Linked DNA regions of Homo sapiens: regions 1 and 2 are each linked to region 3. The links come from fine-mapping of genetic effects on gene expression. A gene starts in region 3. Each other region holds a variant in brackets. All regions are shown on one strand. Distances are from middle to middle. Region 1 holds the start of ASGR2 (asialoglycoprotein receptor 2). Region 2 overlaps ASGR2 (asialoglycoprotein receptor 2). Region 3 holds the start of CLEC10A (C-type lectin domain containing 10A).

Region 1 (5,226 bases), 35 kb before region 3:
CTCTACCCCTGGCTGAGTGGTGTGACTTGCACATGTGGTGAGGGGAGAAATTGATGGGCACCATCTGTGGGGACTGTCAGGGCACTCAGACTTCTGGCTGCCTATAGAGAGTAGAGAGTATAGAATTAGTGAGGGGAAACAGGATGGGAGCTAGGGAAGAACGAAACAGGACAAAGGTTTAGCTCAGACCTCTGAGGAAGACCTAGTGTCATGAAGTAAGGAATATGACCAATCTAACCTTTGTGTCTGAGGTACAAATAAACCCCAAATCAAAATCAACCAAATAAGGCCGGGCGCGATGGCTCACGCCTATAATCCCAGCACTTTGGGAGTTTGAGATGGGCGGATCACCTGAGGTCAGGAGTTCAAGACCAGCCTGGCCAACATGGTGAAAATACAAATAATTAGCCGGGCGTGGTGGTGCATGCCTGTAATCCCAGCTACTCAGGAGGCTGAGGCAGGAGAATCACTTGAACCCGGGAGGTGGAGGTTGCAGTGAGCTGAGATCGCGCCATTGCATTCCAGCCTGGGTGACAAGAGTGAAACTCTGTCTCAAAAAAAAAAAAAAAAAAAATCAATCAAAGAAAATAGGATTCCATAACCCAAAACAGAAAACCTCCAACAATATGGAAACTTCAGAAATAGTCCAAGTACATGTTAACTTCTAAGTTAAAATGATTTTCAAATAGGGAGAAAGAGAAGGACGCAGATGAGTCTGGCTTTCTCTGTCCCTTCTCTCCCTGTAGTGCCGTGAGTGGGGGTGTAAGTGACAAGCCCTGAAACGTGGAATTGGTTCAGTCAAAGGGGTGGCCAATGAGGATGGCCCCATCCCTGGTTGGCAGTTGGCAAAGCTTGACATGCAGTAGACAATCCATCTGTGAAGCTCTTACCTGTATCTCAGGACTAAATCCACATGCCCCTTAAGATGGGGGCTTCACAGCAGTGTTGTTCAGACTTTGAGTTGTGACCCATTAATGGACTGGGAAACTCAACAGAAGGCACGTAGTAAGGTGAGCATTGTCCCATCAAACTTTAGTGTCAACCGTGTATTTCCAAACGCATTATTCTATTCACTCACTCACTCAGTAGATACTTGTTGAGCAGCTACTGTGTGGCAGGCACTGGGGATCCAGGAGAAAGTAACACATACAAATGCACCTGTGTGTGCGGGTGCTTGTGTGTATGTTCTGGATCACAGCATGAAATTCGTCTCTCGCTGTGGGCTGCAGTCAGAGAGCCCAGCGGCTGCTGCTGCCTGGTGGCTGGGTGGGAATGTCAGGGTACTGGGGGGGTGGCTACTTCCCATGTGGGTCAGCAAGTTACAAGAACAGAAAAGGCCTCTGTTTGAATTCCTTTTCGGCACCCGGGGAAACGAGCAGCTTTATAAGAAACCCTGCCCGTAGCCATCCGCCCAAGTTTGGTGAGGGTCAGAAAATCATGCACAAAAACTGTGTTTTCTTTCCCGAGCTATTGTTAGCGCAAGTGTAGACAGTCAGCCACGTTCCTTGCTTCATGGAAGCCAGTCTTCCTCGTAGGACCATGAAGACCTTTTCTTTTCTTTTTCTTTCTTTCTTTTTTTTTTCTTTGAGATGGAGTTTCTCTCTTGTTGCCCAGGCTGGAGTGCAATGGCGCAATCTTGGCTAATGCAACCTCCGCCTCCCAGGTTCAATCGATTCTCCTGCCTCAGCGTCCTGAGTAGCTGGGATTACAGGCCCCTGCCACCACGCCCGGCTAATTTTTGTATTTTAGTAGAGACAGAGTTTCACCATGTTGGCCAGGCTGGTCTCGAACTCCTGACCTCAGGTGATCCACCCACGTCGGCTTCCCAAAATGCTGGGATTACAGGCGTGAGCCACCGTGCCCGGCCAGACCTTTTGTTATGATGTTATTTTCCCCTCTTTACTCCATTTTGCTTTGCCAGTTTCTCTACTCACCTGGGCCACCACCTAGAGCAAGTTGCCTCATCTCTCCGAGGCTCCGCTTCCGAACCCTGTGAAATGGGAGTAACAGAAGTCCTGCCTCGTGGGGGTGTTGTGCTGTGATAAATGAAGAAACACCTTGGAGAATTTAGGGCAGTGGCTGGGCCTGAGGACAGTGTTTGTGTTGCCTGGGCTGGGGCAGGGTCTGGGCCGGACGGGGCTCTCTGAGGTTGGATTCCTCCTGCGAGGAGAGCTGTTTTTCTGCAAAGCCCCTTCCTCCTCCTGCTGAAGCTTCTGGATTTGAGAGGCTTTACTCTCCAGGAGAGTGAAGCGAGTTGGGCCAGAGCTGAGAGTCTGGTGGCCGAGCCCACAGGAAGCTGGGGTCTGTGGTTCAGATGC[C/A]GGATTGGGCAAGAGTAGAGAACTGGTCGCTGTGATCCTGGTCAGGGATATTTGGAGACACCCACAGTTCTGGTAAATTCGGAGGCAGGAAGTGAGAGGGGGAGGGAGAGAGGGAAACGGCAAACTGCACCCCAGCCCCTCCTGGCCTGGCACCCCTTCCAAATGGTGCAATGAGTGGGGTGAGTGGCGTGTGGAGTTGAGCGCAGCCCAGGGGACCCCCCTCTCTGGGAATAAGAACAGAGATAGCCCCGTCCCCTGCCCCCACCCCACAAATGAGTTACAGCTCTGTTTCCTCTTCTGTTTACTGTCCAAAGTCCCAGGCCAGGAGGTGCCAGGTTAGAGCTTGGACACTCAGACCCTCCAGTGCAGGCCTTGCCCGGACCAGCCCCTCCTCCACTCTCCTCTCCCCTGTGAGCTCCACCTGCCCCAGTTCTCCTGGCTTTAACCCCTCCTTGGCCAAGGCCAGGGTTGCCTGCGGGAGCCAGGTGTCCGCTCTCCACACCTTTCACAGGTAACTGAGGCTGGGGAGGCAACTGGGACGAGGATGCTTGGGAACAAGGAGGCCTTGGTTCAGGGATGGGGAGGACCCCATGGGAAGCTGTGGGTGGTCGGGTCCATGAGCGTGGGGAGGGGTCTCCTGGCCAGGTCAAGGCCCAAGCGGTCTCCTGAGAAGGGAAAGGACCCAGCGGGATTTCAAACCTCATCCCAAACGCCCTGCCAACCTCAGATCCTACCCAGGCCACCACCCCGAACCCCTCCGACCCTGCGTTCCATCCCACCATCAACCTCCACGTGAATCTGCACCTCTGCCCCAGCCCCAGCCCTCAGAGCAACCTCAGCCCAGCCCAGCCCAGCTCCAGCTCCAGCTCCAGCCCGGGCCCCATCATGGCCAAGGACTTTCAAGATATCCAGCAGCTGAGCTCGGAGGAAAATGACCATCCTTTCCATCAAGGTGAGGGGCCAGGCACTCGCAGGCTGAATCCCAGGAGAGGAAATCCATTTTTGAAAGGCAAGTGTGCAGTTTCTGCGGCTTTGCTCCCCCTCTGTCTCAGCTCATGATTGCTCTGTCCCTTTGAGGTCTCTGCCGCACCCACTCTGTGAACAGGGACTGAGGAGGGCCCGACACCCCCGCTTGTTCCCTCACCTCACCTTCCTGTCTACCCCAGGACCCCAGGAAAGGCATGTGCCAGAGGTGTGGGGAGATCTGGAAGATAACTGCCTGCCCTTCTCCTCCCAACCCAAGAACACATGTGCCTCGTATGTGCGTGTGCACGTATGTGCATATGAGGAATGCAGATTCAGCTGGGACTCTGTGTGTGTGTGTGAGTGAATGTTGTGTGTGTGTATATGTGCGCGAGAGCGTGCATATGTTGTGTGTGTGTATGTCGTGTATGTGAGAGGGTATGTTGTGTGTGAGAGTGTGTTGTGTGTGTATGTTGTGTGAGTATATGTTGTGTGTATCTTGTGTGTGAGTGTATGTTGTGTGTTGTGTGTGTATCTTGTGCATGTGTGTATGTTGTGCGAGTGTATGTTGTGTATGTGAGTGTGTGTATGTTGTGTGTATGTTGTGTGTATGTATGTTGTGTATGAGTGTGTGTATGTTGTGTGTGTGTACGTTGTGTATGTTGTGTGTGTGTTGTGTGTGTGTATTGTGTGAGTGTATGTATGTTTGTGTGTTGTGTGAGTGTTGTGTATGTTGTGCGTGTGTGTATGTTGTGCGAGTGTGTGTGTTGTGTGTGTATGTTGTGAGTGTGTTATGTATGTTGTGTGTGTGAGTGTGTTGCGTGAGTGTGTGTGTTAGTGTGTGTATGTGATTGTATGTGTGTGTGTGTGTGTGTGTAGAGGTGGGGTGAGTTGGGATGGGTGGGGGACGTGAGCACAGAGAGATCCTGGAAGATCCCTGCTCCTCTCATCTCCCAAGACCCTTCCCTGGATCCTTCTGTAATAAATCTTGACTGAAGGACCTAAGTATCTTGGACATTTTTTTTTTAGAGACAGGAGTGTAGTGGCAGGATCATAGCTCACTGCAACCTCGAACTCCTGGGCTCAAGCCATCCTCCCACCTCAGCCTCCCAAGTAGTTAGGACTTACAGGTGTGCACCACTGTGCCTGGCAAATTAAAAAAAATTTTTTAGAGAAATGGGGTCTTGCTATGTTGCCCAGGCTGGTGGGAAAAGATTTTAAGGTGAGAGAGATCTGAGCAGTGCTAGGCAGAAGGGCAAGAGCCAGGAATGGAGGAGTGTCAGGTGTGTGGGTGCTGGTGGTGGAGCCGGGTTCCATGGAGGCAGGAGGAGCAGGGGCTTGGAGCTTAGGAAGGGGATTGGTTAGCTGGGCTGGAATGAGGGACTCCTCATTCCTGAGGCTGGCCAACCGAGGGAGGGCCGGTGCTGGGCAGGGCAGGGCAGGGGACAGGAGGGATAGGAGGTCCCTCCCGAGGACCACTCAGGAACACCAGTAGCATCTCCTCTCTCTGTAGGGGGCTGGCTGGACTTCCCACCAGGCGGTGTCCCCACAGGCAGAGGCCCTGTCCGCCTCACTCTCCTCTGCAACTCCAGTGCCCACACGGCACCCGGTACATAGTGAACACTCAGAGAGAATACGGGATGCTGCTGAATCTTCTGAGGGTGACAGAATTTAGAGTTTGAGCAGGAGGCTTGGAGAGAGGCCAGGATTTCTGAAATTAATGGGAGAGTGAGCTCACGCGAATGGGCTGAGGGACACCAGTGAGGGACCGTCTGAAGGGATGTAGCAAAGTCACCGCATTTCCCTCCAGCAGCCCGGGTGGTGGGGGCTGGGGGAACGTCATCATGGGAGCTGACACTGATCAGCTGCTCACCGGGGCCCATCTTCCACTTGTCTCAGCACTTGATTTTTTTCTGCTACCCCCTTTTTCTTTTAAAGATTTCAA
Region 2 (5,226 bases), 20 kb before region 3:
TAGAAGCTCCCGGGCCTGACAGATCTCAGGAAATGACAGCTACACATAGAAGCGAGAGCTACCAGGGGCCAATGTACTTGAGAGGCCAGTGAAACTGAGATCTTCAGTGGGTCTGGGGTCTGGGGGGCAGTAAGAGCAGGGACCAGGGTCGGGATCCCAGGAGTTCGAGGCTGTGGGCAGAAGACAGGGAGAGAACCGGAACTTGGGTAGAGCCATAAGCTGGGAATGAAGGGGGACACCGGCCCAGGGCTGTGAACAGGGGACAGTGGCCACTAACTCAGGTACAGGATTGGCTCTCTGGCTCTGCAACTCCCTGCAAAATGTGGTCACTGCAGTGCCCATCTTAGAGAGCTTCTGAGGATTAAATGAGATCATCTTTGCACAGACAGCACGAAGTCTAGCCTAGCAAATGTGCACTGAACAGTAGCTAGAGTGACGGAAGAAAAAGCTAGGAAGCAGTCTTGTCGGGAGCTGGTGCTTCAGCCTGAGGGCAGATCAGGCTGGGGAAGGCTGAGAGGGGCCACAGTTCCATGCCTGCATGGAGGGAGGAGAAAGGCACAAGAGACTAGAAATTTCCTGTTTGCCTGTGTTTCCAGAAATTCATTGTACAACACACGAACCCCTTCAATACCTGGATAGGTCTCACGGACAGTGATGGCTCTTGGAAATGGGTGGATGGCACAGACTATAGGCACAACTACAAGTAAGTGGCCTCTTCCCTCATCTCCTTGTTAGATTTCTCTGGGGACAGCCCCCTGGCCTTTCACTCCAAGCTACCCTGACTCGTCCCTCAGGGACCAAATTCCCCAATCCTCTCCTCCCCAGACTCCAACCCCTCCAAAGCTGTGCTCTTCTGGGCTGGGGGTGAGGGTTGCTGGGACTGGGCATAGGAAACATCTTTCTCTGCGGTTGGGTTCTCCCCAGACTGGGTAGCAGGGCACACCCCAGCTCCACTCTCGGCCTTCAAGGAAAATGGTCATGAAGAGGAGGAGGATGGGTAAGTCGCTTTCTCACCACCGTGGCAGAGTCCGAGTTTTCTCTTGCCTCCTTAGGAACTGGGCTGTCACTCAGCCAGATAATTGGCACGGGCACGAGCTGGGTGGAAGTGAAGACTGTGTTGAAGTCCAGCCGGATGGCCGCTGGAACGATGACTTCTGCCTGCAGGTGTACCGCTGGGTGTGTGAGAAAAGGCGGAATGCCACCGGCGAGGTGGCCTGACCCCAGCACACCTCTGGCTAACCCATACCCCACACCTGCCCAGCTCTGGCTTCTCTGTTGAGGATTTTGAGGAAAGGAAGAAACACTGAGACAGGGGTATGGGGAAGAGCTGAGCAAAGAGAGAAAGGAGGTAGTTTAAGAGTCCCTGACCCTGGAGGACTGAGATCCCACCTCCTTCTGTAATTCATTGTAATTATTATAATCGTCAGCCTCTTCAATGGCGTAGGAAAGAAGAAACAAATGCTTGAATCTCTGTGTGGCCTGGTTATTGGGAACTGAGAAACAGCATGCAAAGAGGAGGGAGAGGGGAGGGCATGGAAGACGCAAGGCGCGCATCCTAGACAGCTGCTCCTTGGTCCCTAATCCCGAGGGACATTGGTCAGGGAAACGGGAAAGGGGCTTGGAGCAGACAGGCTTAGTGGCTGGCACTGGTGGGAAAGGGGTCGGCCGGGCTGTGGCTGGAGGGTCCGCCTGGCTCCCAGTGAGAGGTGACAGCGTGCTGGCAGTCCTCACAGCCCTCGCTCGCTCTCGGCGCCTCCTCTGCCTGGGCTCCCACTTTGGCGGCACTTGAGGAGCCCTTCATCCCGCCGCTGCACTGTGGGAGCCCCTTTCCGGGCTGGCCAAGGCCGGAGCCGGCTCCCTCAGCTTGCAGGGAGGTGTGGAGGGAGCGGCGCTTGCGGGCCAGCGCGATTTCCGGGTGGGCGTGGACTCGGCGGACCCCGCACTCGGAGTGGCCGGCCTGCCCCACCGGCCGCGGGCAGTGATGGGCTTAGCACCTGAGCCAGCAGCTGCTGTGCTCAATTTCTCGCCACGCCTTAGCTGCCTTCCCGCGGGGCAGGGCTTGGGACCCGCAGCCCGCCATGCCTGAGCCTCCCCGACCCCCGCTCCGTGGGCTCCTGTGCGGCCCGAGCCTCCCCGACCAGCGCCGCCCCCTGCTCCAGGGCGCGCTCAGTGCCATCGACCACCCAAGGGCTGAGGAGTGCGGGCGCAGGGCGCGGGACTGGCAGGCAGCTCCACCTGCGGCCCCAGTGCAGGATCCATGGGGTGAAGCCAGCGGGGCTCCTGAGTCTGGTGGGGACTTGAAGAACCTTTATGTCTAGCTAAGGGATTGTAAATGCACCAATTGGCACTCTGTATCTAGCTCAAGGTTTGTAAACACACCAATCAGCACCCTGTGTCTAGCTCAGGGTTTGTGAATGCACCAATTGACACTCTGTATCTAGCTACTCTGGTCGGGAAGTCGAG[A/C]ACCTTTGTGCCTAGCTCAGGGATTGTAAACGCACCAATCAGGCCAGATAAGAGAATAAAAGCAGGCTGCCCCAGCCAGCAGCGGCAACCCACTCGGGTCCCCTGCCACACTGTGGAAGCTTTGTTCTTTCGCTCTTTGCAATAAATCTTGCTGCTGCTCACTCTTTGGGTCCACACTGCCTTAAGAGCTGTAACACTCACCACGAAGTTCCGCAGCTTCACTCCTGAGCCAGTGAGACCATGAACCTACCAGAAGGAAGAAACTCTGAAGACATCTGAACATCAGAAGGAACAAACTCCAGACACGCCGCCTTTAAGAACTGTAACACTCACCGCGAGGGTCCGCGGCTTCATTCTTGAAGTCAGTGAGACCAAGAACCCACCAATTCCGGACACACCAGGGCTCCCAAAGGAAACATCTTTCTCTGCGGTTGGGTTCTCCCCAGACCGGGTCGCAGGGCATACCCCAGCTCCACTCTCAGCCTTCAAGGAAAATGGTCACGACGAGGAGGAGGATGGGTAAGTCACTTTCTCACCACCGTGGCTCTGTCTTTTTGACCCCAAGCGGATCTAGACATATCTTCAACACAGGGTGTCACCAACAATCTCCACAGTGGGCAAACTTCCCGCTCCAAGAACATTCTGAAACTGACCTTAAAAAGACTATTCAGCGGTTATATTATTTATTTAAGTTGGAGTCTTGCTGTGTTGCCCAGGCTGGAGTGCAATGGTGCGGTCTTGGCTCACTGCAACCTCCACCTCCCGGGTTCAAGCGATTCTTCTGCCTCAGCCTCCCGAGTAGCTGGGATTACAGGCATGCGCCACCACACCCAGCTAATTTTTGTATTTTTAGTAGAAACAGCGTTTCGCCATGTTGGCCAGGCTGATCTTGAACTCCTGACCTCGGGTGATCCGCCCGCCTCTGCCTTCCAAAGTGCTGGGATTATAGGCATGAGCCACGGGGCCCGGCCCCATATTTTTAAATTTTTAAAGTACAGAAGTAATACATTCTATTAGTAAAAAAATGTTTTAAATGACACACACACACGCACGCACACGAGTGTCCTCTCAGTCCTCCTCCGTCTCCCCAGAGTCAACTCTTTCCTGTGTCCCCTGCCAGAGCCCTTCCTGTGTACATGAGTAGATGCAATATTATGTCATTACATAGTGCCTGTTCCGCTTCACAGTGTCTCGTGGACACCAGTCTAATCTATGCCATTACCTGGCAGGTTTTACCTCCTTGGATTTAGCAGCTGTAGAGAATTCCAAAGTAGGGATGTACCATGCATTATGTAATCATTCTCTGTAGGGGGCAAGTAGTTACCACTTTTGTTTCTTTGTTTTCACATAGAATGTTTCAAAGTAATTTTTTTGCTCATAAGCTTGGGATAGGTCAAGACTTCCCACTTTTCAGTTGAAAAATTTTCTAGGATTGCCCCTTCAAAATGTACACGATTGGGATTAAATTTAAAAAACCGTGAAAATAGGCTGGGTGCAATGGCTCATGCCTATAATCTTAGCATTTTGAGAGGCTGAGGTGGTGGGTCGCCTGAGCTCAGGAGTTTGAGACTAGCCTGGGCAATATGGCGAAACCCAGTCTGTACAACATGCACACACACACACACACACCCCAGCTGGATGTGGTGGTGCATCCCTGCAGTCCCAGCTACTTGGGAGGCTGAGATGAGGGGATAGTTTGAGCCCAGGAAATTGAAGCTGCAGTGAGCTGTGACTGTGTCACTACACTGCAGCCTGGGTAAGACAGCGAGATCTTTTCTCAAAAAATAAATTATGGAAGTAATAATACACTCTAAAGTTTTATAGGACTAGAATTTTTATAGAAAAGTAGAAATTTTATAAAGTCTATAAAACTAGAAGTATAAAGTCTATAAAACTAGAAGTTTTACAGGGCTCTAGGTTACTTGACCTGCCCCCTTTAGCTCCTCTTGCTGCCTGGAGAAACTGCTTTCAGTGATTCTAGCTGTTTCTTCTAGTACTGACATCTGCAGTTCTAAGTAAGACACACAAACTGATATTTCATCTTCGTATGAGTTGTAGACATTATTTAGTCGCTATCATGTAAACGAGGTAAAATCTTCCAATGTAGTCTACAATTTATATTTAAATACTACTTTAAAATTTGTATCAGTTGTATCTGTGTCAATATGGTTACTGCTGAGTCAACTACTATAATCTGATTACATTCCCTTTCTTGCACAACTCTCATTTCTTCTGAAAGTAGTCAGTATTCCATTAAAAAAATTTGCCTCATATTCTTTTAACTTATTGCTGAGTCTTCCTGAACTGTAAAAAGCTTGACAATATAATTTTTCCAGACGTGCAAACCAGTCGTATAATCAGTATTTTAGTTGTACTTGGTGTACTTTTTCCTAGAGCCAGAGAAGTGATTCCAAGTTTTATGGGGCCTGAGGTGTACACAATTTTGGGGAGCCCTCTGTAAGAACAATTACAAAATTATGGATATAAAATTAAGCATAAAAATTACCATTTATTTAAATTTAAAAAGTCACAAATTTCAAAAGCAGAGAGCTACCAGAAACATCACAGAATCTAGAAAATGCTATATATACATATATATATAAATTGTATGTGTACATATACATATATATGTGTATACACACACACACACACACATATATATATATATATATTTTTTTTTTTTTTTTGAGACAAAGTCTCGCTCTGTCACCCAGGCTGGAGTGCAGTGGCATGATCATGGCTCTCTGCAGCCTCAAACACCTG
Region 3 (5,226 bases):
GAAAGACTTGGAACCAACCCAAATGCCCATCAATGATAGACTGGATAAGGAAATTGTGGCACATATACACCATGGAATACTATGCAGCCATAAAAAAGAATGAGTTCATGTCCTTTGCAGGGACATAGATGAAGCTGGAAACCATCATTCTCAGCAAAGTAACACAGGAACAGAACACCAAACACCGCATGTTCTCACTCATAACCGGGAGCTGAACAATGAGAACACATGGATACAGGGAGGGGAACATCACACACCAGGGTCTGTCAGGGGGTGGGCGGCAAGGGGAGGGAGAGCATTAGGACAAATACCTAATGTATGCGGGCCTTAAAACCTAGGTGATGGGTTGATAGGTGCAGCAAACCACCATGGCACACGTATACCTACGTAACAAACCTGCACATTCTGCACATGTATCCCAGAACTAAAAAAAAAAAAAGAAGCTTCAAACCCACTGAACCAGACTGAAAAAAAAAAGTTAGTGAATGGAGAAATATCATGTTCTTTTCATGGAAGATTCAACAATGTCAAAATGTTGATTATCTCCAAATTAATATGTGAATACACTGCAAGACTGTGGTAGACACACAGAGAGCTACCCAGGTCCCCCTTCTAGGAAGGATGTGGTGACCCACTGTGGGGAGTGTAACCTGCAGACAGCTGCTTCCTGAGGTCACACCCATGTCAGGGCTGACTGCCAGTGACCGAAGGAGCTGGTGCTCTACAGGACCCTGTGGCAGTCCAATGCTGGACAGCTCCCGGGGGTGGCATTGTTTGAACCCAGAGCTCCCTGTTGGTTTGGTTGAAGCTCTCCAAAGTGCTGGGCTTCTCCCTCTGCCCAGCACCATTTCATCCACTTTCCTTTTCGAAGTGCTAATCCCTAATAAATAGCTTGTACCCCAAATTCAGCCTCAACCTTGGCTTCCAAAAACCGAACCTGCGACATATACTAATCAAAATACCGAATACCAAATAAAAACAAAACTGGCAACGACCTGGCCGGGTGCGGTGGCTCGCGCCTGTAATCCCTGCACTTTGGGAGGCTGAGGCGGGCAGATCATGTGAGGTCAGGAGGTCAAGACCAGCCTGGCCAATATGGTGAAACCCCTCTCTACTAAAAATACAAGAATTAGCTGGGTGTGGTGGCGGGACCTGTAATCTCGGCTACTCGGGAGGCTGAGGCAGGAGAATCGCTTAAACCCAGGAGATGCAGTAGCCGAGATTGTGTCACTGCACTCCAGCCTGGGCAACAGAGTGAGACTCTGTCTCAAAAAAATAAATAAATAAATAAAATAAAAAAGAAAAGAAAAAGAAACAACTTAAATTTCTGATTTATTTCTGTCAATAGAGAAATGCTAAATAAATAAATTACGGTGCCTATGATGAAATGAGGTGCAGGTAGATCAAGTACATTTTATAAACTGATGTGGAGAAATGTTCCTGATAGCTTGTTAACTCCAAAAAAAAAAAAAAAAAGCACATAGCAGAACACAACCCCATGTACATACAAAATATAACCTAAAATGTATTTCTTCTCCTTCTCCACCTTGTAAGATACTCAGTTTCCTTCCTACTGAAAGGGATGTGCGCGTGGATTCAGGGCAGCTCCCTTAGGGGTTGAGCAGGGATCATGGGATGAAATGGAATCCTGTTCATGAAGACAGCGCCTGTGCTGAGAGCCAGAGCAGGGTGCCAAACTGTCTCCTTACAAGCTGTGAGTGATCTTGGGCTCTGAGCCTTTAGTCCGTCATCCAAAATGCCTCCCCAGGTGCTTGGGGGGAATGGTTGTGGAAGGTAAATGTCTGGCATAATCCTATCACAGATTACTCAATAAAATTTGCTCTTTTCCTTGGCTTCTCCCGTCCTATTAGGGCCAAGAAGTTCTATTCTCTGGCACCCCCTTCCCTCCTTCCGAGTGGAGTGAGGCGAGCGAGGCCACAGCTGAGCAGCCGAATGACTGGGACCCAGAGGATGCTGATGCCAGGGACTCAGGCCAGGATTGAGCAAGAGAACAGACTGGGCTTCTCTAGGATCAGAGGTGCGATGATGGAGACCCAACAATTCTGGGAAATGTAGAGGCAGGAAGTGAAAGGAAGTGTAGGGTAGAGGAGCAACAGCAGATTGTACCTCTGATCCAGCCCTGCTCCCAGATGGTAAAAATGAGGAAGCTCCGAGAAGAGGAAAGGAAGTAGGCATGGCCTGGAGGAGGAGAACAGAGCTGGCCTCAAACCCAACTCTCCCCACCCACACATGGTCTCTGTGTGTTCTAATCCCTGTTCATTCTCATTTACTGTCTAAAGTTGAGGAGATGGGATGTCCCAGATGATAGGGCTCCTGGGATTTCAGACCCAAGACCAGCAGGACTCCAGTCACCTCTACCCCAGCTCTCCAGGACACAGCGCTCCCAACTCTGAGTGACGTCCCACCTCTGGTCCTTGCAGCACAACCAACGTGGGAATCACACCCTCCAGACCTCCCACAGGTAATGGTGCTGCCGGTGCCGGTGAGACCCAGGGGACAGGGGATGTCAGAGGAAGCAGGGAGAGGGGGACTTTGGGTCTTGGGTGGGACTAAATGAAAATAAATATAAGGCGGCAGTGTGGGGTTTAATTACTACGTGGAGATTTGAGACTCTGTTCCCTTCACTGGATTCTAGATTGGGTTACGGCAGCCACAATCCCCTGTCATAAACTAAGACTCCGGGAGCTGAGGCAGGAGAATCTTGTGAACCCAGGAGGCAGAGGTTGCAGTGAGCCGAGACGGCCTCGTTGCACAACAGCCTGGGCGACAAGAACGAAATTCCATCTCAAAAAATAAATAAATAAAAATAAAAATAAACTAAGACTCAGACTCAGCCTCATTGGTGGCCCATTTCCAGCCTTATCTTCATCTCAGCCCAGCCATGCCCTAATCCCAATACTAACCCCAGCTTCTACATTTTCTTTTTTTTTGAGACTGAGTCTCACTGTGTCGTCCAGGCTGGAGTGCAACGGCACAACCTCGGCTCACTGCCACCTCTGCCTCCTGGGTTCAAGTGATTCTCCTGCCTCAGCCTCCCAAGTAGCTGGGATTACAGGCGCACACCACCACACCCAGCTAATTTTTGTATTTTTAGTAGAGATGGGGTTTCACCATGTTGGCCAGGCCGGTCTCAAACTCCTGACCTAAAGTGATCTGTCTGCTTCGGTCTCCCAAAGTGCTGGGATTTATAGGCGTGAGCCACCGCACCTGTCGCCCCCCACCCAGCTCCTACTTCAACCCCAACCCCAGAATCAACTTGAATTTTAACACCAGCCCAAAGCCAAAATTGAACCTCGACTCTATTCTGTTTCCAAATTCACCACCAAAGTTAACCCCAATTCCATCCATGGCTCCAACGTGCATACTGACCCCAATCCTAGCATGAGATACAACCTCCAGTCCTGCCTGATTAACTGGCCCACTGGGTAGTCCTAGCAATGCGTTTAGCTCCAACGTTACCCTCCAGTTTCACTCCCAAACTCAACTCGACCCCAATTCTAACTCGACTGCAAACCCAGGCTCATTTCCGTCTTAACCCTGGGCTCATTCTCAACCTGAGCCTCATCTCCCAACTCAACGTCAGCCCTGCCCTTGGCTCCAACTTAGTCCCAACCTCCTATTCCCCAGCTCCACCCCAGACTGGGCGCCGGCCCTGCCTCCATTTCAGCTGTGACAACCTCAGAGCCGTGTTGGCCCAAGCATGACAAGGACGTATGAAAACTTCCAGTACTTGGAGAATAAGGTGAAAGTCCAGGGGTTTAAAAATGGTAAGAGGAAAGGGGAAACTCTCCTAAAATGCCCTCTTTATATGTTTAGAAGGATTTCTCCTATCATTTCTGTACCTCCACCACGCGCACTGGTGGGTCCTAACTCTGAGGAGGTCAGGCCCCAGCCTCTGACGGGCCTAGTGTGAAGAGGATGCAAGGTCTCTAGAAAGACTGGGACAGGGAGGATCACAGTGGACCCAGCTTCTGATGCTCTGTGGGGTGGGGATGAGAGCTGCGCATTGGTGGAGGGAAAGATAAGTAGTTGGGTTTGGAAGGAAACTCATTTGTGAACCTGATTGTCCAGCAGGTAGGTGAGCATAAGCCCATGAAGGGCTGGCTGCCCCCAGCTCTCCCTGTGTCCTCCTGCCCCTGCCCCCAGCTCTGACCATGGGACCCCTCATATCGCTATCACGTGGGTCCCCAGGGGTGTGAGGGGCCTGTGTGACTGAGGACTTGTGCTGGTCCCTGAAGTCAAAGGCCTGGGCATCCCCCACCCCAAAATCCTCCTTGTCCAACCCTCCCCTGGAGTCCCCTGTGCCCAGCCCTCCTCACTAGACAGCTCCCTGGGCCCTCTCCTTCTCCCGTCTCCGGTGTCTGGACCCTCCTCATCCTGACACTCTCTCCTCTTGCAGGGCCACTTCCTCTCCAGTCCCTCCTGCAGCGTCTCTGCTCTGGGCCCTGCCATCTCCTGCTGTCCCTGGGCCTCGGCCTCCTGCTGCTGGTCATCATCTGTGTGGTTGGATTCCAAAGTGAGGGTCACAGGGGTGGACAGGGAAGAGAGAAATAATGGGGTAGAAGATAAATAATGGGGTGCTACAGTAGGGCAGTGGTGGGGCGATGGTGAGGTCCACAGTAGGAGCAATGCAGGGCACAGTGTTGGGGGCAGCTGTGGAGATAACAATGGGGCATGGTGAGGGCAGTGCTACCAACAGTCATGGGGGTCACAACAGAGCCACTGAAGCACTGATGGGGCACTGATGGAGTGATTGATGGGAATGGAGGAGAGGGCACTGATGGAGTGATTGATGGTAACGGTAGGGGGGCACTGATGGAGTGATTGATGGGGACGGTGGTGGGGGCACAGACGGAGTGATTTATGGGAATGGTGGGGGGCATTGATGGAGTGATTGATGGGAATGGTTGGGGGTCACTGATGGAGTCATTGATGGGAATGGTGGGGGGGCACTGATGGAGTGATTGATAGGAACGGTGGGGGGTCACTGATGGGGTGATTGATGGGAATGGTGGTGGGGGTCACTGATGGAGTGATTGTTGGGAATGGTGGGGGGCACTGATGCAGTGATCGATGGGAATGGTGATGGGAGCACTGATGGGGTGACTGATGGGAATAGTGGGGGGCACTGATGGAGTGATTGATGAGAACAGTGGTCGGAGCACTGATGGAGTGATTGATGGGAATGGTGATGGGGGCACTGAT

What was found.
Region 1: its variant is fine-mapped to the expression of CLEC10A in whole blood (TOPMed, PIP above 0.99).
Region 2: its variant is fine-mapped to the expression of CLEC10A in whole blood (TOPMed, PIP above 0.99). The same link has a PIP of 0.9 or more in blood mononuclear cells.

What each region holds. Positions count from the first base shown.
Region 1 is chr17:7,112,218-7,117,443 of GRCh38, reverse strand. It overlaps ASGR2 (asialoglycoprotein receptor 2), which reads left to right and starts at 2,622. Exons shown (of 9, transcript NM_001201352.2): 1 at 2,622-2,829; 2 at 3,134-3,327. The coding sequence starts at 3,204. RefSeq lists enhancers at 1,684-2,470, 4,276-4,776. The variant C/A (reference allele first, on the strand shown) is at 2,319.
Region 2 is chr17:7,097,567-7,102,792 of GRCh38, reverse strand. It overlaps ASGR2 (asialoglycoprotein receptor 2), which reads left to right. Exons shown (of 9, transcript NM_001201352.2): 8 at 597-703; 9 at 1,053-1,467. The coding sequence ends at 1,218. Among named protein-coding and RNA genes, the nearest start is that of ASGR2, 15 kb to the left of the region's middle. The variant A/C (reference allele first, on the strand shown) is at 2,464.
Region 3 is chr17:7,077,308-7,082,533 of GRCh38, reverse strand. CLEC10A (C-type lectin domain containing 10A) reads left to right here and starts at 2,283. Exons shown (of 9, transcript NM_001330070.2): 1 at 2,283-2,482; 2 at 3,649-3,788; 3 at 4,421-4,537. The coding sequence starts at 3,722.